Linked DNA regions of Homo sapiens: region 1 is linked to region 2. The links come from fine-mapping of genetic effects on gene expression. Tissue or cell type: whole blood. Region 2 holds a variant in brackets; the other region holds the start of a gene. All regions are shown on one strand. Distances are between the middles of the regions. Region 1 holds the start of RGL1 (ral guanine nucleotide dissociation stimulator like 1). Region 2 overlaps RGL1 (ral guanine nucleotide dissociation stimulator like 1).

Region 1 (2,918 bases), 83 kb before region 2:
GGTTCCTGAGGATGGCTTAACAAGCAGGGAGGTAGGGCCTTCACATGATTTTCCTCTGGTTCCCAGCAACATTCTGCCCTGATCATCATAGAAGGATTTAGTCTATGTGTTTTTCGTTCGTTTGTTTTTTAAATTATAGAACAACCACTTCAGCTTGCTAAAAGGGCATCTCCTCTCTATACAGTGATGGTGCCCTTAGGTTCTGGTTGTATGGGGATAACCTGGCTGAATGACTTGTAGATGTTCTCAAGTGTCCACAGATCCTTTTGTTTTTGCTTAATGTGCCCTTGCTGTCATTTATTCTGCTCTCCTGGGAACATCAGTACACTTGATTTGCTAAATTGTCAGCTCATGATATATTTACCATTAACCAAAACCCAGGCTTATGTCATAGTATGGCAATTAGTGGGAGACCTATTTTTTTTTTTATTTGAAGGTGATTAAATTCATTTAGGGTGAATAGTATGAAAGACATGAGCCCTAAAGGTATTTGCAATTTGCATGGAATTCTGGCAGGTGTCAAGTTTGACTGCATTATCTGGTATCTCTTGCTGTTGACTTGTTAAAACTGGATCTAAAAAAATGTAATAATCTTTTATCCCTATAGCAGATCTTTCCATTATGATAAAACTCCTGCTGGTAGTCATCTGATGAAGAACTTTTCCCTGTGGCTATGATCCTACTGTGTCCCTACAGTACAGGCAACTCAACCCATGGTGGCTACTCACAAAGACTCACAGAACCTCCAGGACACTGTCAGTCCTAGCAAAACCTTACCCTGCTTTGTTCCCTTCCCACCCCCAATGGCCAGTTACTGGGTAATTGGGGTGGTGAAAAGCCCAGCGCGATTTCCTGTTGGCAGTGTGCTGATGCAGGAGAGGGTATAGCCCCTGGGCATGGTTTTGGAATACCCGGGTGTCCTCTGACCTTATCCTCTGTCCTAATGAAAAACTTCCTGGCGTCTAGTATTGCGGCTCTCACTGGGGTCATTCTGACTTAATTATTCTAAAATCAAAATAGATAATAGGCAGATAATGGAAGTTTTTTGGACTTTCTCCTTCCATTGTTTTAGCGAAGGAAGAAGACACACACAAATCCTCCATCCCACACTCAGTTCTATTTTGGCACCTGGTGACCGTCAGGAAAACCTGATAAACTTGAAAGTGTTGTTTCCCAATCACCTTCAGAACTGGAGAAACGCTTTCATGCTGACTTTATCCATGGGACTGAAGAAAGGGAGAGTGTGCTCACAAGCACAAACAGGAAAGCCTTACATCACGGAGTGGCGTGGGGAGGAGTCTGCTCCTCGCTTGCTCGCTCGCTCGCCGCGCTCCCTTTGTGGCCCGAGTCGCGCGCACCGGCGGCGGCGGGGGCAGCGCGGCGCGTGTCTGTGCGCTGCGGTCGCTCGGGACCGGGACCGGGGCGAGGCGCCGCGGGGCTGAGCCCAGCAGACATTGCGTTGGCCTCCGAGCAGGGCGCATCATGCAGCGTTCGCGCACCGGAGAGAAAACTGAGAATGAAATTGCTTTGGCAAGCTAAAATGGTAACGAGAGCTCTCTGCCTTCTCCCGAGGCTTCTCTGGTGGGGAATCTTCTCCCGCTTTCGCTGGGCGTGTTTTGGACTCCCTCGGAGTGAACGGAGCAATCCGATTCCATACTTGTGAGCTAAAGCTCTCTCACTCCGCTTTGTATTCCTCTCTCTCTGCGTGTCTTCTCCCTTTCAACCGTACCTACTTTCTCAGCAATTGCCTGTGGTGTGTCTGGGGCAGATGCATGTCAGGAGGGGAGAACTTTGAAGGAAAAAGAACTGTTAGTGTGGGTGAACCGCGGAGCGCTTCTGCGTCCCAGCGGCTCTTTAACACAAACCTCAGGTTTAGCTGGGGACATGGAAATCCAGGGGGTCGCTGCACAGATTTTAGTAGAAGCTGCCTGATGATGTGTTGCTTTTTCTGCACTTGCCAGATTATTTTACGGAAATAAAAACTTTCCACCCCCGCTAACTTTGTGGGCTCCAAAACAATGAGGAGAAAAGACAAGCAAACCACTTCACTTCCAAAGGAGTGAGGACTCTTGGCGTTTTAAACACTTGTTTGTGTCTGAGTTTAAAATCTGGTTTCTTCAATGACCGAGCCACTCTAAAAAGTACAGACTTATTCTTTTCTTTTTTTCTTTTTCTTTTTCTTTTCTTTTCTTTTTTTTTTTTTTTTTTTTTTTTTTTTTTTTTTTTTTTTACAAAGAATTATTTTTCCTTTCACTTAAGGGGGACAAGTTAATCAGGACTAATCTAGTTTCTTTGTAAAGAAAAAGAAAGACTTCAAAACAAAACTATTTAAGATATGTGAGCAAGTCTAGGAGAAATAACTAAATGGAAAAGTCAGGGGATCCTGATACCACAGGAAGGGACTGCAAGCCAAGAAAATCTCAGCATTCCCTCTATCAAAATGTGTCTTGTATTGCGGATTGTAATATTTATTTTGAACAGCCCATCTTGTGCCCTGAGTGCTGTTGTAAGCAGCAAGGCAGCTGGGATAGATTGTGGTTAGCAGAGAGGAAAAAAATACTCTTTTTCTTTCTCTTTATCCCGTCCCTGGCAGAGCTCGATTCAGGACTGGGGTGAAGAGGTAGAGGAAGGAGCTGTTTACCATGTCACCCTCAAAAGAGTCCAGATTCAACAGGCTGCCAATAAAGGAGCAAGATGGCTAGGGGTGAGTAAAGCTGGCGAGATGGTGAACTTTGGAATTTCAGTGTCTGTCGTTCTGTGAATATCATTATTATTTAACAGAGGCAGGCTTTTTTTTTTTTCCTCTTTTCGCTTTAAAAAGGAAAATGCTAATGACCAAGTGTTTGCACTAGCTGAACAGGTCTCTTTTTGTATTTAATGTTTTCAAAAGCATCTTCCCTAGGTTTGTCAATAATTCA
Region 2 (2,918 bases):
GCAAGTTGAATCATTTGAAGTATATTTCAAATCCCATATCATGTGCTAATAAAGCCAAGGGCTCTTACTTTTTTTTTGGTGATATCACTTCCTAATACTGAGTATGTTGTATCTTTTACAATTGTGTAGGGAAATGTAATAAAATAATGAGGCTTACCAGTGGTTTGCTACCAAGATTTATTTTACCTTTCCTGCATTCATCGTAGTCAATTTCTATTGAAAGGATATTTGAAAAAGAAAATTTTTCTGACCTAATATGACTATATTTTCTTGGACTGCCCTTAATGGTATGTTTTTACTTTTGCATCACATCTCCTGGAAGATGCCTCTTTTTCTAGAAATGGGACCAGATGCCTTTTGTACTCCTTTAAACCCTTAGTTTAAACCTCTTTTTGAATAATGTGTTCCATGTGTTTATTTCAATTTGCATGATGTATCTGTTCCTGAGTTCCTTTTTTTATTGCAAGTTTCCTGATTTTTAGAATATAACTTTTGTGAACCTTTGTTGAACCATGCTCCCATAGGCTTAGTTTCCAGATTGCAATTCAGAACATTTCTCTTGTTCTCTCTCTCTTCCCCTCCCTCCCTCCCTCTTTTCCTCCCTCCCTCCCTCCTTCCCCTCCTTCTTCTCTCTTTCTCTTTATATCTTTCCAAATAAGGGGAGGACATTGAGGCATTTAAAAAGGGTGGACATGACTTTTATTAAGTACTTTGGCATTTACTCTAAAGAAAATGTTTGAGGGTTTGTTTGGCATAGTTTTCAGTGTCCAGATTTTGGCATGCTAAATTAGAGTGCTGTTTTTCCTTCGTATTCAGGATTAACATTTCTTTGTGAAATGATTCTCGAAGTGATTTACATTTATGCCCAATCACTCTGGGACTTCTTACCTGAGATACTCTACACAAAACCAAATACGTGCTCACATGGTGTACTCACTTGTAAACACTGGGCCTAGTACGCTGTCATGTGCCTGTATATGAAGCATCTCCTTTGACATAAGGCCTGGTCCAGTCTCCTCACGTTGCTACCTTCCCCATGCCAGCCAAGAATGGGACTTTCTCCCTGTCTGTTTTGCTGTCCCTGCTATTCAGTCACAGGACTTTGACTCCAAGGTCACTAACTGCTGATGCTACAGGCTCCTTATGGTAGCTTAAGTTTAAATAGGGAGCCTCTCTCCTTACCCAGAAAATGGCATCCAGAATGTTTCCTGTTCTCTTTCTATTTTGTTTTAAAACATTGCCAAAATGAATTTTATTTTAAAAGGCCGAGTTATTTTGGAAGCATTGAAGTACCAAGGTGTTTTTGAATGTTTATGGTTGCAGGACAAGCCAATTTGAAACCAAATGAATGTGTATAAAAATATCCCCCCTTGGCTAAGAGCATAAAAGCCAAAGTTCAACTTGTGGTGAATTTTTATTGCCAAATTATATACACCTCTGTGGACAAGGGTTGGTGATGAGATGTTCAATACCATCTGACCTCAAAGTGGCTGCTGCCCAGCTCATTTTGGGATCTAAAGAAGATCTAAAGTGCATATTTTTAGGACATCTGTGTGCTTTCAGCAGAAGAAAGTTGCTCTTTCTAGCATAGCTCTGTAGACTTACCTCCATTAGTGTTTTTACTAGGAAAGCTGGAAACTATAAAACTGTAACAACAACACAAAAAAATATATTGACGAGAGAAAAACAAGCATACTGTGCCAAAATCTATAAAGTGTTT[C/T]GATGACTGGGGTGGGAGGAAGGAGCCACTTTTTGATGTTCACTATTTATACAGCTGCCTATTTTGTGGTAAGAATTCATAGCAGCTGTGATACCTCTAAAACAGGAAACCACCAAGTCATTGTAATATTGATAGTTAAATGCCTTTTATGTTTTAATCACTCCCCATGCAGGAATGTAGACTCCTGAAGAATTTTTCCTCCTTGAGGGCCATCGTTTCGGCACTGCAGTCTAATTCCATCTATCGGTTAAAAAAGACTTGGGCTGCCGTCCCAAGGTAAGTTCCCAAGTGTTTGCTCTGCTTTTCTTTGGCCGGGATAATTAGTGGTTGTGATGAGTCCTCACCTTCAAAGCTTGTATCGCATAACTAGAGAAACATATTTGAAATCCTCTGTGTGTTTCAGGCAGGGTGCATCTTACACATAATCATTAATGACTTTTGAGGCAGGGCTCCTGCAGAAATCAAACTCATTCTAAGTATACCAAAGCCAAGATTATTGGCTTTGGGGATGATTTGAAGGATGTGCTTATTATCTGGATTTTGAGGGATAAGGTTGTGGAGTGATGAAGTTACAGCAATTTGCCATTACTTCTGGTTATTTTTCAGCCTCACTACAAAGCCCTAAGCTATTTTAGGACTCAAGGGGTAATGTGTGCAGATAGGACATTAGTTCTTGATGTTCAGTAGGAAACTATTTAGTTGTCCTTTTAGTTTCAGCATTTTAAAAACTATCTTATTGGCATTAAAAACCTTTAAATGTTCTTTCCTAAGTACCTGAAATTATTAACTGGCCACATCCTATGCTGTTTTTCTTCATATTTCTTGGTGCAACCGTTGGAATAATTAACAACTTGGTTTCCTGATTTTTGCACTACTGCCATCACTTCCATTTCCGGAACTTCACTGTAGATCAAAGAACTTTGTGCAAAGGAAGGAAAGGTGAGGGAGGGGGCAGTTCTGATTCTCTGTCACTACAGATTTAGAGGCTGGGGATTGTGTCATGAGTACAACTAGGCCAGCTACATTCAACAAGTTTGCCCAGGTTTGAACTAGTCAGGAAGTTAGGCTATATCAGGGAAGAATCTATAAATTCTGTATGGTCTATACCACATGTGGTATAGTCAGTTTCAGTTAGGAGGAGAGGGATGCCAGCTGGCTTCCCAGCCAGGCTGCCTTAGTGGGGCAGAATGGAAGGTCT

What was found. PIP is the estimated chance that this variant, and not a neighbour inherited with it, causes the effect.
Region 1: it holds the start of RGL1, and the variant in region 2 is fine-mapped to the expression of RGL1 in whole blood (TOPMed, PIP above 0.99).

The regions. Positions count from the first base shown.
Region 1 is chr1:183,803,782-183,806,699 of GRCh38, forward strand. It overlaps RGL1 (ral guanine nucleotide dissociation stimulator like 1), which reads left to right and starts at 1,339. Exons shown (of 18, transcript NM_001297671.3): 1 at 1,339-1,543; 2 at 2,594-2,704. The coding sequence starts at 1,517.
Region 2 is chr1:183,886,582-183,889,499 of GRCh38, forward strand. It overlaps RGL1 (ral guanine nucleotide dissociation stimulator like 1), which reads left to right. Exons shown (of 18, transcript NM_001297671.3): 8 at 1,893-1,996. Among named protein-coding and RNA genes, the nearest start is that of RGL1, 83 kb to the left of the region's middle. The variant C/T (reference allele first, on the strand shown) is at 1,721.